Regions from separate parts of the Homo sapiens genome. Here region 2 is linked to region 1. Evidence: fine-mapped expression QTL. A gene starts in region 1. The other region holds a variant in brackets. All regions are shown on one strand. Distances are between the middles of the regions.

Region 1 (10,575 bases):
AAAACTCACGAATAATCCACCCCTTGTTTAACATATACTCAAGAAATGGCCATAAAATAGCCAGTTAGCAGGCCCGCCTGCTTCCCACCCTCCCCACTCCACTCTGCCTATGGGGTAGCCACCCTTTTATTCCCTCATTTTTAATAAACTTGCTTTCACTTTACTCTGTGGCTCATTCTTGAATTCTTTCCTGCATGAAGCCAAAAACCAACTTGGCTTCCAGGGCTGAGCCTCAATTTTGGTATTCACCTGCAACAGCTGTAGAAGATCCTTGAGTGGTCTGCCTGTAAACTCCAGACCTATCAAATTCCATACTCCAATACACCTAAATGCTTCATACAATCCATGGATATTATGAAGTAATAAACAGACTTATACTGATAATCATATTATTAACAGGCTTCTCCTTGGCATCAAATATGGACATGAGGGAAACTGAAGGACTTTTCCAGTTACCATCCTAACATCTGCATCTAACTGTGAAAGGGAATCCACTAGCACTGGCCATACCCTTTCCTTTGGGAATCTATGTTATTTCTTAGGCCCAAAATCTTTTTGGAAGACTTGTGTTTTTGGGAAGACAGAGTTACCCTTTTGAAAAATTGTGCAGACTACACTTTAGAATTCACTTCAAAGGGAAAAATTAGTTTTGCAAGGATGGTACCTAACCTGCAAAATAAAATTTAATAGTCCTGGTGCAAAACACTTCTCCACAGGGAAACATTATTAAACTGAAGCTGATTAACAGTATTATTGCTTCTCAAAATTTAAATGCATCTTAACAAGATTCTTTGTATGCACAATTCTGATTTAGTAGATTTAGGGTGAGGTCTGAGATTTTGCATTTCTAACAAGCTCCAGATGATGCTATTACTGCTAGTCTGGGGATTACCCTGAAGTGCAAGGTGATGGACAGTCATTAGAGAGACCAGGTAGAATTCAGAGGTTAGATACGGGACAGCAAACCGGGCACTGAGACTTCAGAGTCTCCCCAGAGTTTTGTTCTTTAAGATGCAATCCAGTCATCTTTTTTTTCAAATTAAAACGTAGGTTTAATGCAATTCCAACCAATATGCCAAAAGGATTATTTTGGAAACAGACTAAGTTATTTCAAGGTTATTCTAGAATAGGCAACAAGAAAGATGAATGTGGGAAGGGATGAAAGAGAATAGCAAGGGGAGTAAAATTATGTGATTAAGGAGGCATCAAGCATCATTAAGAAAGGAAATAATGGTGGAGAACTAGATATTTGGCAAAATGAACAGACAAAAACACCCAAAACAAAAAAGAAGCTAGGCTGGGTGCAGTGGCTCATGCCTGTAATCCCAGCACTTTGGGAGGCCGGGGCAGGTGGATCATGAGGTCAAGAGATCGAGACCAGCCTGGCCAACATGGTGAAACCCCATTTCTACTAAAAATACAAAAATAAAATTAGCCGGGTGTGGTGGTGTGTGCCTGTAATCCCAGCTACTCGGGCAGCTGAGGCAGCAGTATCGCTTGAATCCAGGAGCCAAGATCGCGCCACTGCACTCCAACCTGGCAACAGAGCAAGACTCCGTGTCAAAAAAAAAAAAAAGAAGCTAATTTAGATCCTTATCTAATAATATGTCTCTTCTCTGAATAAATTCTAGATGAATGAATCTAACACACCAAGAAAAACACAAAATCCCCACAAGAGAGAAGTGAATATTTAACAAACCTATGCCACTCCTCCCAATAAATTCTAGATGAATGAATCTAAAACACCAAGAAAAACACAAAACCCTCAGAAGAGAGAAGTGAATATTTAACAAACCCAGGGGTGAAGATTAAACTTAGAATTGGAAGAAACGAGGGAAAAAAAGTGATAGCTGACACTCTGTGTATGTGTATCCTCTGTATTTAAAAATAACACTAAAGGCCAACGAGGAAAATGTTTATGTTATGTCAAATTAATAGGAAAATAAGTACATCAAACCTAGTGCCTTCAAAAGACAACAGAACAGTGTGTTTAGAACTTCTGGGGTCCAGATCCCACCCCCTTTGCTTTTCCAAGTGAATACCTCTCCCCCGCAGTGGTTTACTCTCATCAACGTACATTCTAGTCTTTCACATTAAAATAAAAATAGCAAGAACCTGAGCCCCTCACCATGTCCTTCGTCAGCTACCAATCCAGTTCTCTATGAGATTGCTCATGATCACAGTAAAACTTCTCCGAAGTCTCCATCTCCACCTCCTCACCTCCCTTTCCTTTTCCACAGTACTTCAATCTGGCATCTCCCCACCACTCCATTCAAATGGCTCTCATCAAAACTCCAGTCTTCATCTCATGCCAGTTCTCAATCAGTGCCCAACACAGCCGCTCATCCCTACAAAACACTTCCTCCTTTGGCTTTCCTCCCTCCAGCCTCACTGGCTATTTTCTTCTTAGTTGCCTTTGTTGGTGTCTCCTGTATCAAAACTCCAAATCTGCACTATGCATAAGGTAGCCCACTAGTCAGGTCACTACAGAGTCCTTGAAACACGGTTAGTCTGTGAGATGTGCTGTAAAATTAAAATATCCATTCGACTTTGAAGATGAAGATTTTTTTGAAGACTTAGTATGTGTTCAAAGCATAGTGTTTTGCATAGACAGGGTTAAACAAAAGATATTAACTTCACCTGTTTCATTTTACGTTACTTTTAAGATGGCTAGAAAAAATGTAAGACTATATCTGTGGCTTGCATTAGATTTCTATTGGCTAGTGCTGTTCTAAATGTTGGCAGTGTCCTAGGGTTTGGTCTTGCTCCTCCTTAGCCTTGCCATCACAGTAAACAGTATCATTATCCATGCACTGGCTCATATTAGAGGCACCGAAAGTAGACAGTAGTATTTTCAGACAATGGGAGTGTCCACAGAGCAGGGTTCCCGGGGTTCCTGGACACTGGATTGCTTTGAGGAACTCAACTCTGCCCATTTATGGTTTTTAGTTTCTCCTCTGGAATGTACCTAAAGGAATTTAAGAAACCTCCATTTGGCTCTGTTGTTTTTCTCTTTTTTAAAGTCCACAGTTTGTAATGGTAAAGACTTAAGCAAGTTCCTGAACTCTTTCAGGCCCTAAAATTCATCATGTTTGAGGAGAATGCAAGCACTGTTTCTCTAAAGACGACTCATCTAACAAATATGCTGCCTCTGATCATGCCAGTTCCATCAATTCAACAGAGGGACTGAAATCTGGCACCAGGAGCTTTGCAACAAAATCTGTGCCACTTGTTAAAAGCGAAAGACTTGATTTCATCCATATCTTAAAAACAACAGGGTTTTAGAAAAGACATACATACAAGTCAAGATTCAATATTTAAACTTAAAACTCATGCAGTATCAAAACTACTAACCATTCTATAAGCACTCCTTTCAAGACGTTGACCATGTTTTCTCAGAAGGTTCAGATGACCTGAAGAATGCTAATAAAAAGAGTAAGGTAACATTAAATTAAAAATCATTAACTTTCATATACTTTGGGGATCTGCCTCTGAAACGAGGCAAAATAATTAAATGTCAATATTTAACAGTTAAGTCTATGAAAGACAGTTAACATTAAGAAAAAAGACATTCTGATTTTTTAACAAAATTAAAATGAGTCTACTTGGAATATTAATGCCACATCTTACTCGCCAGCCAATTCTACCCAAGGTCAATTAGCCCTAATAGAAGCAAGAGGCCTAACTCTACACCAGTGTGCCCAACCCAGGTATAAACCGTCCATTATTCAAAGGATTTCTTTTCCCATTCAGGAGAATGACAAAGGGTAAGATCCTGGGAGACAGGAATCAAAGAAGATAGTTCTGAAAGGTGCTTCAAAAATTATACAGTGAGCCCAACCACCTCCTTTTAGTTTATATTTTATTTTACTGAGACAGGGTCTGGCTCTGCCGCCCAGGCTGTAGTGCAGTGGCGCGATCTCTGCTCCCTGCAACCTCTTGCCTCCTGGGTTCAAGCGATCCTCCCACCTCAGCCTCCCGAGTAGCTGGGACTACAGGCATGCACTACTAAGCCCAGCTAATGTACTGTGTTGTATCGTGTGTGTGTGTGTGTATATATATACACACTTTTATATATAATATATAATATACAATATATAATATATAATATACAATATATTATATATAATATACAATATATTATATAATATATAATATACAATATATTATATAATATATAATATACAATATATTATATAATATATATTATATATTATATAATATACAATATATTATATGTAATATACAATATATGTAATATACAATATATTATATGTAATATACAATATATGTAATATACAATATATTATATATAATATACAATATATTATATATAATATACAGTATATTATATATAATATACTGTATATTATATATAATATACAATATATTATATAATATACAATATATTATATATAATATACAATATAATATATATAATATATAATATATATAATATACAATATATTATATATAATATATAATATACAATATAATATTATATATAATATATAATATACATATTATATATATGTATTATATATAATATACGTATTATATATAATATACATAATATACATATTATATATTATATATAAAATAAATATATATTATATATAAAATACATATATAATATATATATATGTATATATACACTTCGAGACAGAGTCTCACTCTGTCGCCCAGGCTGGAGCGCAGTGTCGTGATGTCGGCTCACTGCAACCTCTGCCTCCCGGGCTCAAGCGATTCTCCTGCCTCAGCCTCCCAAGCAGCGGGGACTACAGGCGCCCGCCACCACGCCAGGCCAAATTTTGTATTTTTAGTAGAGGCAGGGTTTCACCATGTTGGCCAGGCTGGTCTCGAACTCCTGATCTCAAATGATCCACCTACCTCGGCCTCCCAAAGTGCTGGGACAACAGGTGTGAGCCACCGCGCCAGGCCAATTTATTGTATTTTTAGTGGAGACGGGGTTTCACCATGTTGGCCAGGCTGGTCTCGAACTCCTGGCCTCAAGTGATTTGCCCGCCTCGGCCTCCCAATGTGCTGGGATTGCAGGCGTGAGCCACCGCGCCCGGCCTCAGCCACCTCATTTTACATATGAGGAGACCAAAGGAAGAGATTAAGCCGTAGTTCCTGGCCAAAGGAAAAAAGTACAAGCCAGATCTCCAGATCTTGTGCCCCTTCACTAAATAAATCACGTCCCGTGCGGACCTAGGCTGGAAACAAACCACTCAGCGTACGCCCATTTAATTAACTTCCACTTACACCTGGGCGCAGGGCGAGCCCTAGCCCCACAGGAAACCCACGATTAAACGAGGGGGGGACTGCCGTGCGGCCCCGCCAGGAAGGGCCCGGAGAGAGTGGGGGACACCGCCCTGTGCCCCCAGCACCCGGTGGACAGGCTTCTGGGGCTTTTCTCTTCCTCTCCCCTTTCTTTGGGACCCCTCAGTGTTCCCACACCCCACTTTCCCCAGCCGCTCGGACGCTCGCCACACACCTCGGCCCACAGATGCAGAAGCGCCTCGGCGTTGCCGGCAGAGTGCGCCTGCGCCGATACGCCATCGCGCTAGGGACGCTATTGTGGGTGGAGCCAGCCGGCGGGAGGCGGGCCCAGAGCGGGCCGAGGGGGCGGGGTCACGAGCCGCCAGCCGCCGGGTGGAGGGTCCCGGCCGGGAGCCGCGGAAAGAGTAGGGCTCCCCAGACAACGGGGTCCGACGAGCAGTTGGGCACGGGCTGAGTCCGCCTGCCGGCAGGTAGGACGTGAAGGCAGGGGTGGTGTGGGGGCGGACGGGGGCGTCGGCGCAGCTGGGCGCGGTGGGGAGCGGAGAATGGGGAGGGCAGGGACCGGGCACGGCCGAGCACCGCCGTCTGGCGCGCGGACCGGACCGACCAGCTGACGCTCGGCTGGGCGTGAGGGCCTCTCTCTCTGGTGGTCGCGAGCCTGACTCGTCTTTCCCTGTCGCTGCCTTTCTCTGGCTGCTGTCGAGGCCTTGGGGAGTGCACCTGCCGGTCCGTCTTCCCGGGCTCGGTAGTCACGGAGAGATGAGGAGGAGGAGGAAAGGGCCTCACCAGTCACTTCTGAGCCTTGCAGACCACCGCTTCCTGCTCCCTCTCTAACCCCAGAGATGGAATAGATTGAATGCTGAGAGAGCTCTAAACTCGGCAACGGTCATTTTAAAGTGAAAGACCCCAGAAGGTTCTAAAGTTACTCCCTTTCCCCAAGTCTGTTCTGTAAGTCTAAAGGAACACTGTCATTATTTTTACTAGTTGAGATATGAGATTCTTGTTTTCTGTTCCTTAGGTTAAATTGTACTTCCCGCATTAAGCTCATGCTGCCTTTTTTTTTTTTTTTTTTGAGATGGAGTCTCGGTCTGTCTGCCAGGCTGGAGTGCAGTGGCGCGATCTGGGCTCACTGCAACCTCCGTCTCCTGGGTTCAAGCAATTATCCTGCCTCATTCTCCCTAGTAACTGGGATTACAGGCGTGCGCTACCACGCCCGGCTGATTTTCGTATTTTTAGTAGACACGGGGTTTGTCCATGTTGGCCAGGCTGGTCTGGAATTCCTGACATCAGGTGATCCCCCGCCTCGGCCTCCCAGAGTGCTGCGATTACAGGTGTGAGCCACCGCGCCCGACCTCATGCTGCCTTTTTTTTTTTTTTTTTTTTTTTAACATCGTGTGTGTTCATGTGATCGCTAAGGAACCCAGCTCTTCCATTTAGTTCCCTCTTTCTATCCCTCAAATCTTTTCCAACTGGTGATTTCCATATTGTTGCACTCTCTTTAAAATAAAAAAATTGCCTCCAAGTCTTCTTCTTCCCAAGTATCTTTTATTTGCTTTTTTTCATCTTGCATACATTCTCTTCCTTGATCTCATCAGTTCCATTTTTGTGCACTTGATGTGTGTCAGCTATTATTCTAGACGCTTGGGATACAATGGTGAACAGGTAACTAATTTTGGTGGGGGCAGAGAGACTCTGAAATCAGTTAAGGAATAAGTACCATTTGGTGATGTGATAAAGAGTGACTAGAGGGGTTATTTTGGCCAGGGGGATGTCAGAAATGGCCTTAATTTCTGCATTTAAAAACTTCTGTATACCAGTAACAATTAACTAGGAGTTTTAATAATAAAAAGACACTATTCATAATGGCATTCAAAACTAAAGGTACCTAGAAATAGATGAACCTAAAGCTGTGTAGTCCTTTAGACAGAAAATTGTAAGGCTCTGTTGGAACACAAAAGATGACCCAAGTAAATGGTGAGATATACCGTATTAATAGATGGAAAGACTCAACAAAAAGATGTCAGTTTTCCTCAGTTCTACGAATTCAGTGTAATGCCAATTAAAATCACCATATTGTTTTATGGAATTTGCCATGCTGAACTTAAAATTTATATGGAAAGGCAAGGGACCAAGAATAGTGAAGTCAATTTTGAAGAAGAAGAAAAATAAGGTCTCTCCCTATCAGATACCAAAGCTTAATATAAAGTTGTAATTATTAAGATGGTATGATATTGATTCAGGGATAGAGAATTAGATTCATGGAACAGAATAGAGACACTAGAAACATACCTATTTACATACGGGAGTTTAGTATACCACTAAGTGGTATTGCAAAGCAGGGGGAAAGCATAGACTATTCAATAAAGGATGATGAAATATATGGTTGCTGAGATATCTGGCATTGTTATGGTATACAGACAGGATTAGATTCTTACTTTCAAACTATTGACAACAGTTTCCAGATAAAGACCTAAATGTGAATGGCACAGCTGCAAGGTATTTGGAAAGGAATATAAGAGACCATTGTCTCTAGGAAAGATTTCTTTTTTGTTTGCTTTGTTAAATCTTGTTACACATAAGATTTATCATGTTAACCATGTTGAGTTGTTGAGTTCAGTGACATTCACATTGTGCAACCAGCACTACTATCTATCTCCAGAACTTTTTTTTTAAATGTCTCTGAGAAGGATTTCTTAAGTTACAAAAAGCACCTTTGAGGTGTCATTTTATTACTCCAAATGAGAGATGATGTTGGCTTGAACTAGACAAGAGTGTAGCAGTGAATACAGAGAAAAATGGATGGATTTGGGGGTATGTTTTGATGGTAGAGAAGAGCAACTCTGCGTGGTTTAGATGTAGAGTAAGGGGAAAACAAGGAATCAAGGGCAACATCTGTTTTTTTGCTTCAGTTAAGAGGTAGATCATTTACCATTTACAATCAAAAAGCATTGACCATTTGATGGATAGTGATGGAGAAGATTTGTGGAGGAAGAGTTTGGGGAGAAAAAGTAAAGAATTCTCTTTTGGACAGTTGAGTATGAAAGGCCTGTTGGACATCCAAGTGGAAATGTTCCAATAGCTGTTGGATAGATAGGTCAGGAAAGATCGTAGCTAGAGGTACTCTGAGATCACTGGCATATAGATATTAAGAACTGGGCCGGGCACGGTGGCTCACGCTTGTAATCCCAGCACTTTGGTAGGCCGAGGCGGGTGGATCACGAGGTCAGGAGATTGAGACCATCCTGGATAACACGGTGAAACCCCGTCTGTACTAAAAATACAAAAAAATAGCTGGGCGTGGTGGCAGCCGCCTGTAGTCCCAGCTACTTGGGAGGCTGAGGCAGGAGAATGGTGTGAACCTGGGAGACGGAGTTTGCAGTGAGCCGAGATCGCGCCACTGCACTCCAGCCTGGGTGACAGAGTGAGAGACTCTGTCTCAAAAAAAAAACCAAAAAACAAAAAACTGTGGTGTGTTGGAATCAGCTGTGTTACACAGAAAACAAGATAATACTGGCTTAAATATGTATGTAATTGCATAGGTAGGCAGCCATGCTTTTATGGAAGCAGCTCTGTAATCATCAGGGACTCGGATTCTTCTATCTGGCTGCTCTACCGTCCTTAATAAGATGCTTGGTGTTAAGATGACTGCTTTAATTCAAACTGTCAGTTGCTCATTCTAGCAAGAGGGAGGAGGGAAGGAGGAAGAAAGGCACATACCCTTCTTTTTAAGGACACTTTTCAGAAATTGCACATGACACATCCACTCATATTTCATTAGCCAATTCTTTGTAAGTGCCCATAGTTAACTAGAAAGAAAGAAAGGTGATGTAGTCTTTTTTGTTGTCTGTGTACCTAGCTACAACTCACGTTTTATTAATCAGAATGAAAGCATGAAATGATGTTTCACTCTGGCTTCCTCCACCAGGGCAATGAAGCTACTGATATGAAGATCCCAGTGACCTCCATATTGTTAAACTTAATGGAATTTTCAAATATTTGTTTTATTTTTAAATTATAATCTCTTCCCTTTTATTTTCTGTGTCTTTCTTAGTCTCAAAATTTCTCCGTTCTCTACTTAAAATCAGTGTTTCAGATTTTATGTAATCACCGTCATAATATATATATATATTTTTTTGAGATGGAGTCTCGCTCTGTCGCCCAGGCTGGACTGCCGTGGCGCAATCTTTGCTCACTGCAAGCTGCACCTCCTAGTTTCACGCCATTCTCCTGCCTCAGCCTCCTGAGTAGCTGGGACTACAGGTGCCCGCCACCACACCCAGCTAATTTTTTGAATTTTTAGTAGAGATGGGGTTTCACCGGGTTATCCAGGCTGGTCTCGATCTCCTGACCTCGTGATCCTCCTGCCTCGGCCTCCCAAAGTGCTGGGATTACAGGCGTGAGCCACCGTGCCTGGCCCCATAATCTTAAAGGTGCTTTTAAATAGAAATTGACAAGCAGACTCTAAAATTATGTGGAAGTACCAAGGACCTAGAATAGTCCGTCTTGAAAAGGAAGGACACAGCTGGAAAATTTATACTACTAGCTTCAAGACTTACTTTAAAAACTACAGTAATCTGCCTGGTGCGGTGGCTCACACCTGTAATCCCAGCACTTTGGGAAGCCGAGGCGGGTGGATCACGAGGTCAAGAGTTCAAGACCAGCCTGGCCAAGATGGTGAAACCCTGTCTCTACCCAAAATACAAAAATTAGCCAGGTATGGTGGTGGGCATCTGTAATCCCAGCTACTTGGGAGGCTGAGGCAGGAGAATTGCTTGAACCTGGGAGGCGGAGGTTGCAGTGAGCTGAGATCAGGCCACTGCACTCCATCCTGCCTGGGCGACAGAGTGAGACTCTGTCAAAAAGAAAACAAAAAACAACAAAAAACCTACATAATCTAAACAGTGCAGTGTTTATATAAGGATAGATAAATAGATCGATGGAGTGGAATAGGTCCATACATATGTATTCCATTAGGGTTTTTTGTTTGTTTGTTTTGAGATGTGGGTCTCACTGTATTGCCTAGGCTGGTGTTGGGCTCCTGAGCTCCAGCAGTCCTCCTGCCTCAGGCTTCTGAGTAGCTGGTATTACAGGCATGTGCCGCAGATATAGTCAGTTGATTTGTGGTCTCAAGCAATCATCCCACCTTGGCCTCCCAAATCACTGGGATTATAGGCATGAGCCACCACACTTGGCCCTATGGTATACTTTTTATTGTTATTTTATAGTGTATTCATCTATTCCCTCTACTTATAAAAAAATAAAATTTACTGTAAAACAAGTTATGCTGGCAGC
Region 2 (10,575 bases), 76 kb after region 1:
TCACGTAAGGGATGACACTTGATCACTGCTGTGCGAGCCTCTGTACGAGGCTCCCAGATACAACAGGCGGTACAGTAAGATTTCACTACTGAACTTCTTATTAAATAGCGAAAACACGGTATCTGCTCCAAATGGATTCCAGACCTTGTAACATTACTTTAAAAATGTAAAGCACTATGGTAATGTCTTTTTCAGTTATTGAATAGGTGAGAAGTGCTGTTGGAAACGTGGGAAAAATGTATAGGCAAAAAATATAGACAAACATATAGACAAGCAAACCCAGAAACACTGGCCTGGTGATTCTTATATGCAGGGACACATAGCACTTTCCATCCCGAAGCTCCAGCCGGACAGACGAGGCTGAAACACTCTCCATATTCTAACAATGAGAATCAATATCGCGTATCAGCAAGAGTTTTCGCACTGTGTGCTTTTATGTGGTATGCATGGAATATAAGCGGAACAAAGGATCCGTGAGGTTTCATTTAATAAGGACTAGATGGTGGATAAAAATTGGTTTCAGTAGCACACCATGGCTCAGGATTATAGTAATTGATAGGGCATGCAATGTCTAAGACATGGCACAGGAGCCTTCAGCTAGTTTAAGCTAAGGTTAAGCTAACGGTGTATGCCACCGGCTCCCTCGGGATTCACGCATCATCAAGGTTAACGCACATGTACACACTTAAACATGAAGGCTCATGGGAATGTACAGTCTAGTCATTAGGTTGACCTATTTGGCTGCTTCCGACTCTGATTTTTTGTAACCTTGTTTAAGTGGGCCAGGACAGCTACTAATGGTCACAACGACCTCTTTCTCTAATCCTTACTTTATACATCAACCTTCAGGTGGCTCCCCAAAATGTTATACCAAATCTGTAAAATGCAAATAAAACAAAAGACAAATCTCCATCACGTACAACATGAACTGAACAGCCATTTAAAAATTCAATGGGTGAGAACTTCTTGGACCTCATTGGCTAGATTCCTTTCTTAAAATCCATACACCGAATTTAACAGGAAGGTTCCCATTCCTTGAAGAGCAAACTTCAGATGTACAAGCCTTGAGTGAAATATATTTTGGTGGCTGAGTAACCATCTTACTGAATAAGAGACACGATTTTTGTAAACTACACGAGAGTGACAGATGCACAAACGTTTTGGCCAGTGTGCCTTTAAATAGATGTCTCTTCTGGTGGAGGGATGTCTAGAGGGAGGAAGGTATGCATTCTATAGGACTGCAGCCTTCAAAGCTGCTCAGTCATGTTTTTGCCAGTGGGTCAAACACCTGCAGTGCTGTCCTCTTTTCTTGGTCACTGATTGTCACCCAGTGACCTAAGGTTTTGTGTTCATGATCTGGTGGCAGCTCTGCCTTGGCAGCTGAAGCGCCAGCTGACACTGGGTCTATGGGATCTCTTTTGGGGCTCCTGGTTCCTGAGTCCAAAGGGTCTGAGCTCTTAGAAAGCCAAGTGTTATTCAACAGTTTAGGGTGGTGAAGAAGGTTCCAGAAGGGGTCCTGATAATCACCAAGAAGTGGGGCTGCCTCTGGCTTCATCGCTTTGGTGCCATCGCTGTCGGGGCTTGTAGCAGATGAAGTGCTGAGAAAGTCCCCTTGTGGGAAGACGGTGCCCGCGGCAGGTGGGTGCCCAGAGGGGCTGTCACTGCTATTGTAAGTGAGGCCCTGGAGAAGCTGGCTGTTGCTCTGCAGGACCTGCAGGTGGAAGGCTGCGGGGGCTGACTTCTTCCTCCTCGGGGGTACCTTGGGCACAAGAGGCGGCGCCTCCAGAGGTGGTGGCACAGAGGCTCCTGCCCCAGGAGGGGCTTCGTCTGATGCTGGCTTCCTGTGGCTTGGCCTCTCTGCAGCTTTCCCAGGCTGAAATGTTCTTGGTTTGGGAACAGGAGGGACTCGAGGGGCTGTCACGACAGGAGGGGCCTCAACGCTTGTCTCCGGGGGCCCGATTGTAAAATGGACAGTCTGTTGCTCAAACTGTTCTTCCGGTGACAGGGGCTGAGAAAAGGTGGGACAAAGAGTGTAAATAAGAAGCCAATAACTAGGCAGCTGAGGATCAGAGAACAGAGTGGCCAGCAGAGAACAGAGATGAGACCAAGCTGACATTCTAGCAAATTCGAGATTTGAGAATGTGTGGGGTGCCAGAAATGTGACCAGGTAAGAAAAAGAAAAAGCACAGGAGAAACACACATTTATCAGGTCACACCAGCAGGTCCAATGAAAACGAGTGGAAAATTTAAAACCAGGGCCACAGTAAATAATCAGACAAACTTTTCTTTGTCCTTTAGGAAATGGGGTGATGCTCTTCCTTTATTGAAAGCAAACCTCTCTGAAAACACTCTTTGAAGTTGCAACCTGGGCTGATTCATGGTCTGTATCATGCTAGGGTGAAGTAACTTGTGTTACAACATAAGCTAACTGAAGGACTAATGGATATACTTTCTCCTTGAATTTTTTTTTTTTTTTTGAGAAGGAGTCTCGCCCTGTCCCCCAGGCTGGAGTGCAATGGCGCAATCTCAGCTCACTGTAACCTCCGCCTCCCAGGTTCAAGCGATTCTCCTGCTTCAGCCTCCCGAGTAGCTGGGATTGCAGGCGCCTGCCACCATGCCTGGCTAATTTTTGTATTTTGTAGTAGAGACGGGGTTTCACCATGTTGGTCAGGCTGGTCTTGAACTCCTGACCTCAGGTGATCCACCCGCCTCAGCCTCCCAAAGTGCTGGGATTACACGCGTGAGCCACCGCGCCCAGCTCCTTGAATCTTTTATACTTAAATATTGGTAAAGAATGGAAACCTTGACACTGCCTTGGTTCTGGTTCAAATCTATCACAAAGAAAACAACTGCACAGGCAAAATGAAGCTTTTGTTCAGAAAAGGTGATCAGTAGACTAGTTAAACATTGGCGTTTCAGTGTTTCTTTGGTTCTTTAGAAAACAAACTAAGAAAAAAGAAAGTCTCTTTTCCAACAGCCTTTTAACTTTAACTCCTGTGCAGCAGGTTGGGAAAATGAATCTATTTCTGCTCCTGGCTTTTACAAGAAAAGACAAAGCAGGTGGTCCCCGACTTACAATGGTTCCACTGAGGATTTTCCACTTCACCCTAGTGCACAAGCGCTAATGTTCCGTAGAAAGCATACTTTGAATTTTGAAGTTTGATCTTTTATTTTTATTATTATAAAATAGGCTGTGTTGGATGGGTGTTTTTTTTTTTTTTTTTTTTTTTTGCCCAGCCGTAGGCTAATGTATGTGTTCTGAGTGTGTTCAAGGTCAGCGAGACCATGACGTTTGCTAGGTTAGGTGTATGAGATGCAGTTTTGACACGCTATTTTTCAACTTACGATGGGTTTATTGGGATGTAACCCCATTTTAAGTCGAGGAGCATCTGAACAGGGAAGAGGCGGAGGAAAAAGGTCCACTTTGTAAGGAAGCATGGACAAGGGACAGATGGCAATGAGCCAATGTGGGACAGAAGAGCAACCCAGGAAATACAAAGCAAGCGCTGTCAAGAGTGAAGCCGAAGCCCCCCTCACACTCTCTAGGGGGGAAGCAGCATCGTGCTGTGATGACCAGGAAGGGATTACCGAGGGTCCGTTACTAGAACACTGAGATCAAACGGAAGATCCAGATGTGTCTACAGATGCCAGTCTTTGGGCTGCTACTGTCCTTACAAACTCATGTCTTTGAAGCAGTAAGCAAGGCTGAGAAGCTTGAGAGCGAGAGCAAAAAACAATCTGCAAGAAAAGTGGCAAGAAAAGCTGTGGAACCTCTCGTAGGCTGAGGCCGCACGAGAGCATGTGAACATGGCGAATCTGGGAATCGGTTACTGTTTTCCTAATGCCTTGAAACCATGTGCACACAACACAGACCACACGCAAATGGGCGGTACCAGAACATGTGGGGAAAAGCATCCCACTATGGTTCCCTTTGGGGACTCAAAACACTTAGGAAGCATAATACCTCCAAGCTGTTCTTGTCACACTGACAATGTGCCAGACAGTGGACTCCTCGTTCTTCTCAGCCAGAGCCAAGACACAGTAGGATATGAGGGAAGAAGCAGTTGTCAAAACTTTCCCCAAAGACACACCTGTGTCTGGGACTCATGAACGTGAGGATGTCCATAGGGAACTAGATTTTTATCTGTGAGACGCAAATCTGTTTTTTTTTTTTTGTTTTTTTTTTTTTTGAGGTGGAGTCTCACTCTGCTGCTCAGGCTGGAATGCAGTGGCACGATTTCGGCTCACTGCAACCTCTGCCTCCTGGGTTCAAGTGATTCTCCTGCCTCAGCCTCCTGAGTAGCTGGGATTACAGGCGTGCGCCACCACGCCCGGCTAATTTTTCTATTTTTAGTAGAGACGGGGTTTCACACCATGTTGGTCAGGCTGGTCTTGAACTCCTGACCTCGTAATCCGCTTGCCTCGGCTTCCCAATGTGCTGGGATTACAGGCCACAATTCTTATCTATCGAGACATGTGAGCAACTTAGGAGTAAGAGGTTTTATGTTACCAGGCTTTTACCTTTCCTGTCCTTCTCAAGGTTGGCTTCTTGATGGCAGGAACTCTGGGTGGGGGCCGACGGGGAAGGAGTGGGGGCGCCTGTGGGGTCTCTGGTTTGGCTGCCCCCGGTGTGGGCTCTGGTTCAGAGGATGCTTCAAGGTCCCTTGGGGCCACGGCACTTAGGGCTTCTTCGGAGGCACCTGAAACATAAAACCACATGGCTGAAGTGTAAAGGACAAGGCAATTCACTGCATGATTTCGTCCTTAGACAGTCTACATCCTAAGTGTCATTTACTAATTCAGTGTATTTCAGGAGTAATCAGCTAGATTCAGTCCCAGCTTTTTTTCTTTTTTCTTTTTTAAGATGGGCTCTCGCTCTGCCACCCAGGCCGGAGTGCAGCGGCATGATCACGGCTCACTGCAGTCTCAACCTCCCAGGCTCGAGCAATTCTCCCATTTCAGCCTCCTGAGTAGCTGGGATTACGGGTGAGCACTGCCACGCCCAGCCAATTTTTAAAATTTTTAGTAGAGATGAGGTCTCACTATGTTGCTGGAACTCCTGGGCTCATGCAGTCTTCTTACCTCAGCCTCCCAAGTAGCTGGGACTACTGGTGTGAACCACCACGCCCAGCTAATTTTAAAATTTTTGTAGAGAGAGGGTCTCATTGTGTTGCCCAGACTTGTCTCGAACTCCTGGATTCAAGCAGTCCTCCCACCCCAGCCTCTCAAAGTGCTGGGATTACAGGCGTGAGCCACCGCACCCAGCAGTCCCAGGTTTTCATGCTCACCTTCCTAGCAGGGGTGGTGATCTGGGGTCTGTGGATAGTTTGGATGGGGACCAGTGAGACCCTGAGATCATATGCAAAGTCTCATGTGTACTTACATTTCTCAGGGTAGATGATCCAAAGACATCAAAATCTCAATGGGGCCATGACCAAGAAAGTGTTAAGCCGGGACTGTAGGTAGATTTCACACCTCTACTAACATCTACATCTCTAGAGTTTTTTTTTTTTTAACAGCTTTATTGTGACATAATTCACATACCGTGAAATTCACCCTTTCTAAGTGTACCATTCATTGGTTTTTAGTGTATCCACAAAGTTGTGCAACCATCATACGATCTAACTCCAGAACATTTTCATCACACAAAAAAGAAGCCCCACAGCAGCCACTCCCCACCCAGGCCTCCTTCCAGTCCCTGGAAAGCAAGAAGAACTTTCTGACCCCATGAATTTGCCTGCTGTGGCCATTTCATAAAAAGGGGATGGTACACTATGTGGCCTTTTTTTCTTTCTTTCACATAGTATAATGTCTTCAAGGTCCACCCATGAAGTAGTATGTATCAGCACTTCATTCTTTTTTTTTTTTTTTTTTATGAGACAGAGTCTAGCTCTGTCACCCAGGCTGGAGTGCAGTGGCGTTATCTTGGCTCACTGCAACCTCTGCCTCCCCAGTTCAAATGATTCTTCTGCCTCAGCCTCCCGAGTAACTGGGACTAACAGGCACGTGCCACCACGCCCGGCTAATTTTTTTGTATTTTTAGTAGAGATGGAGTTTCACTGTGTTAGCCAGGATGGTCTCGATCTCCTAACCTCGTGATCCGCCTGCCTCGGCCTCCCAAAGCGCTGGGATTACAGGCGTGAGCCACTGCACCCAGCACCCAGCCCCATTCTTTTTTTTTTTAATGGCTGAACAATATTCCATTGTATTGATGGACCACATTTTGTTTATCCATTTATCAGCTGATGGACACTTGGGTTGTTATATCCATAGTTTTAGTTATTTTTCTTTCTTTCTTTTTTCTTTTTTTGAGACGGAGTCTTGCTCTGTCACCCAGGCTGGAGTGCAGTGGTGCAATCTTGGCTCACTGCGAGCTCCACCTCCCGGGCTCAGCCATTCTCCTGCCTCAGCCTCCTGAGTAGCTGGGACTACAGTCACCCACCATCACGCCCGGCTAATTTTTTGAATTTTTAGTAGAGACGGGGTTTCACCGTGTTAGCCAGGATGGTCTCGATTTCCTGTCCTCGTGATCCACCCGCCTCGGCCTCCCAAAGTGCTGGGATTACAGGCGTGAGCCACCGCGCCCGGCCTAGTT[T/A]TAGTTATTTTTCTAAAATAAAAAAAAAGAAAGCATTTGTAGCAGTATCATTCTACAACAGTAGTTCTCGACCTTTTAACTCATGCCCCCTTAAATATTATTTGAGAATTCCAAAGAAGTTAAACATGCTGACTAAAAGCAAATTAAGCAATGGTGATTGCTTACACCTTTTTAAAGGGCACACTCGGCCAGGTGTGGTGGCTCACACCTGTAATCCCAGCACTTTAGGAGGCCAAGGTGGATGAATCACCTGAGGTTGGGAGTTCAAGACCAGCCTGGCCAACAAGGTGAAATCACATTTCTACTGAAAATACAAAAATTGGCTCATCATGGGGCTGCGCGCCTGTAGTCCCAGCTACTCAGGTGGCTGAGGCAGGATATTTGCTCGAACCTGGGAGGCGGAGGTTGCAGTGACCTGGGATTGAGCCACTGCACTCCAGTCCAGCTGACAGAGTGAAACTCAGTCTCAAAAAAAAAAAAAAAAAAAACAAAAAAAAAAACGAAGAAAAGGGCACACTCTCCTCTCTAGGAGATTCTGGAACAAAGCCAAGGCCAAAACTAAAAGTGTAAATTACCAGTGATTATGAATGAAGTGGGGGAGAGCCCAAGGTAACTAACATGGTTTAAGTAACAGCAACAAAAAATAATGTGGTGGGAAAGAGGTCCCTGCCTGACACTAAAAACTTTATTTCCACTTGCCAGTGATTTAAAAGGTAGATTTTGTGCCTGAAATTAGGACAAACACTATAACTGTCTCTGTTTTATAAAGCTGGCAGAATGACTTCATGCCGGCAGCATTCACCTTTTTTAAAAACTCATTTTGGTTTTTTTCGGTCTCTCCTTTAGACGCCGCTTAATAGCCCTGGGATGATTTTTATATACACACAGAATTTTGAAAATACAATTTTAAATGGACAATCAATCTTAGTATAGATTTATATAAAATGTTGCTAAAGGATGTTTTCATTTAATATTGCCTCCAGAAGAATAAAAAGAGTTATTTTCGTTTCTAGACCACTTTTAGCAGGGAGATAAAAAGAAAAGGAGAATTGGTTTTTCCCCTGCCCCCAGGAAAGCACCTACCTCCTCTGGCTTCCAGGAGACACCGGATTGCTGCTTCTGCCTCCTGGGCATTGGTGGTTTTGATCTGCTTGACATTATAAGGTTTACTTATTCCAGTCCGAGCCTTGGGCTTGAGGACAGAATGAGGAAGAGCAGAGTATCAGCAGAGGCAGGAGGACAGCCTCGTGGGACGTATCTGCTACCCGTGGGTCTGTGCAGGGCTCCACCAGACGATGCTGACCATACAAACTCCAGCCTCCACCACACCCTGCAATCCTCTCTTTCCTGGAGCACTCTCTTTCCAAGAGTGCCATACTACTTAGACCTGATGACCCTGGTCTTCAAAGCCGGGTGATTACAGATTTTTGCATATGGACAGACCATCTTCTATCTTTTTTTCAATAACCAGGTGAAAGCCAGAAAGCAAAATAAGAGGCCACTCTTTCCATGGTCCCACTGAGTTGTTAAAATACCTTCCTTAAAAGTGCTTTTTCTACTTCTTCATCCAGCATGTGGGTTGCCTTTATGACCTATTTTCACTACTGTAAAACACTGGCCTCCAGTCACCCCTCCACCTGCTGGGGCCGCACAAGCACTTAACCAGGCCCAGCACCCCAGAGGCATCCCGGTCATAGCAGTTTCCCCCTAGCACCCAGCTTCCCCTCTCTCCCCTCTACTTCCCTGCCTTCACCTGCTCTCTTCCCCAGCAGCTCATGGTACCCTCTGGAACCAGGCACCTCCACAATCCTCTATGGCTGTTAGTCTTCCTAGTGTGTTCCCCAACTTCATTATTTACATCTCTTTTTAGCCTCTTCTCTCAACCAACTTCACTCCAGAATGATCATCATTTTCCCAGGATAACGACCTGAATTTCTCCCATTTTCCCTTCTACCAAGCAATGCTCTGCCCATACACCAAGGTCAGAGGCAAGAATGGGAAGAGAGAGAAATGGATGAGTATGGAAACCAGGGATATTTGGGATTTTTCATCAAAAGTGATTTTTTCTAGAACACTCCATACAACCATTTAAAAGCCCTATGGAGAACCTGCGAGGAAGGGTTATGGGGTTTGGAGATGAGATGGTGAGCAGGTAGAGGGTTAAAGACACATAAATCTATATATTCACTGAGAAGAGAGATCCCACACTATCCCGGGGGCAAAACCCTTGGGATTGAAATGTATGCAGAAGAACTCACAGGTTGCTGAGGTGCTCCTGGTAGAAGTCTTGCCGTCTGCAAAATTGAATACTGTCCATGGGTGCCGGAGGAGATGGACGCATCTGAAGCCGACTTTTTCACCATTAAACCGGCTGTAAAAACCAACGAGGGCAGAGTCTCAATCTCAGTGAAGGCACAACTTCCCAGCCAGCTGCCAGGAGCCCGACTAGACGAGGCGGATGTCCCAGCAGACCACAGACACGGTGAGGTCCGAATACTCACTCGGCACTTAGGGCACCCACAGAGCCAGGCCTTCCTTGACTCTCTATGGAGTTTCTCACTTGATTCTACCAGTGTGTGCCTATTGATGTAGATGATCTGGAGAAGCATTACTAGAATGCAAACTTTAACATCTTGGGGGATTCAGATCTGATATAAAAACCAATTGATTTTGAAATGGTTCCAAATACTATTGCTAGGACCAGATTTTTAAAATATTTTGTGGGGAAAAAATATTTCAAAAACCCCAGCCTGGGCAACATGGTGAAACTGTCTCTACAAAATAAATAAATAAATGAATAAAAATAGCCAAGCCTGATGGTATGCGCCTGCAGTCCTAGCTACTTGGCAGGCTGAGGTAGGAGGATTGCTTGAGCCGGGGAGGTCAAGGCTTCAGTGAGCTGTGAGATCGCACCACTGCACTCCAGCCCGGGGGACAGAATGAGCCCATCTCAAAAAAAAAAAAAAAAAAAAAAAAAAAAAAAAAAAAAAAAAAAATTCCAAAGCAGGGGAATAAACTGTTAAAATATACTTGCAGCCATTAACAAATCATGTTTTAGAACATTCAATGACACAGAAAATATAACCCATTAAATAAAAGACAACCGACCAGAGAAAATGGGTATTAATTTTGTTAAAAAAAAAAAAAAAAAAAAAGAAGTATGTTGCTGCAGATACATGAAACTGGAAAAAGAAGACTTTTTTCAACAACTACGACCCGTAGGTCATCAAGTGAATTTTAAAATTTTGTTCTTCTTTGTAGTTATCTCTAAAATTTCCACAATAATACATGACTTATGCATTTTATTTTTGGGTTATTTTTATATCTGGGCTTGTGGCTTGCCATTGGTTACTACCGTGACGTCAGCCACAATGAGCCCAATTCTGAAGTAATGGCTTAGGAAGATCTAAGTCTGATCATCACATTTTTGGGGAGGGAGAAGTAAACAGTGGTGGGAAAATGCAAGTGGATCAAAAGCACATCACAGCTTTGCTTTCAGGTTATCAGGGAGGGCTGGACGGGCAAAGCATTGTTCGAACAACCAGAAGAAAATGCTCCTAGACCCAGGATAAGGGGGAACTTGTTCTGAGCCCGGGGAACAGGAGGCCTCGGAGCGCAGAGGGGTGACCAGGTCACCTCCAGGCGGGGACCTGGGTTTACCAGATTCCTCATAAGTAGAGGGAGGACTGCGCAGCAGCTGAGGAGAGACTTCTGACTGCGAAGCTCACGTCCCTCCCATGGCTGCGGCCCCCATTCTGCATCCTCTAATGCTGCCAAGGGAGAGCAGTTTGAAGCAATAGCACAGCTCCAGGGTGAACAGCAGCTTTGGAAAGGAGCTGTTTCATTTGCCATGAGAAACACAACCAGCCCTGACGTCAAACGTGTCCTGGATTTACAACAAAACGGAGCCCAAGGAGGAGGAAGCCCTGTGGGGACCGGAAGGCCGGGGAGAAGTGGATTCGGAGCCGTGTTTTCAGTAG

Evidence for each region. PIP is the estimated chance that this variant, and not a neighbour inherited with it, causes the effect.
Region 2: its variant is fine-mapped to the expression of SERAC1 in whole blood (GTEx, PIP 0.94).

Annotation. Positions count from the first base shown.
Region 1 is chr6:158,163,318-158,173,892 of GRCh38, reverse strand. It overlaps SERAC1 (serine active site containing 1), which reads left to right and starts at 5,631. Exons shown (of 17, transcript NM_032861.4): 1 at 5,631-5,753. It overlaps GTF2H5 (general transcription factor IIH subunit 5), which reads right to left and starts at 5,543. Exons shown (of 3, transcript NM_207118.3): 1 at 5,498-5,543; 2 at 3,355-3,423. The coding sequence starts at 3,389. RefSeq lists silencers at 5,544-5,723, 5,764-5,833.
Region 2 is chr6:158,087,051-158,097,625 of GRCh38, reverse strand. SYNJ2 (synaptojanin 2) reads right to left here. Exons shown (of 27, transcript NM_003898.4): 24 at 8,854-8,966; 25 at 7,679-7,787; 26 at 4,522-4,700; 27 at 1-2,008. The coding sequence ends at 1,262. Among named protein-coding and RNA genes, the nearest start is that of SERAC1, 76 kb to the left of the region's middle. RefSeq lists an enhancer at 1,243-1,743. The variant T/A (reference allele first, on the strand shown) is at 6,596.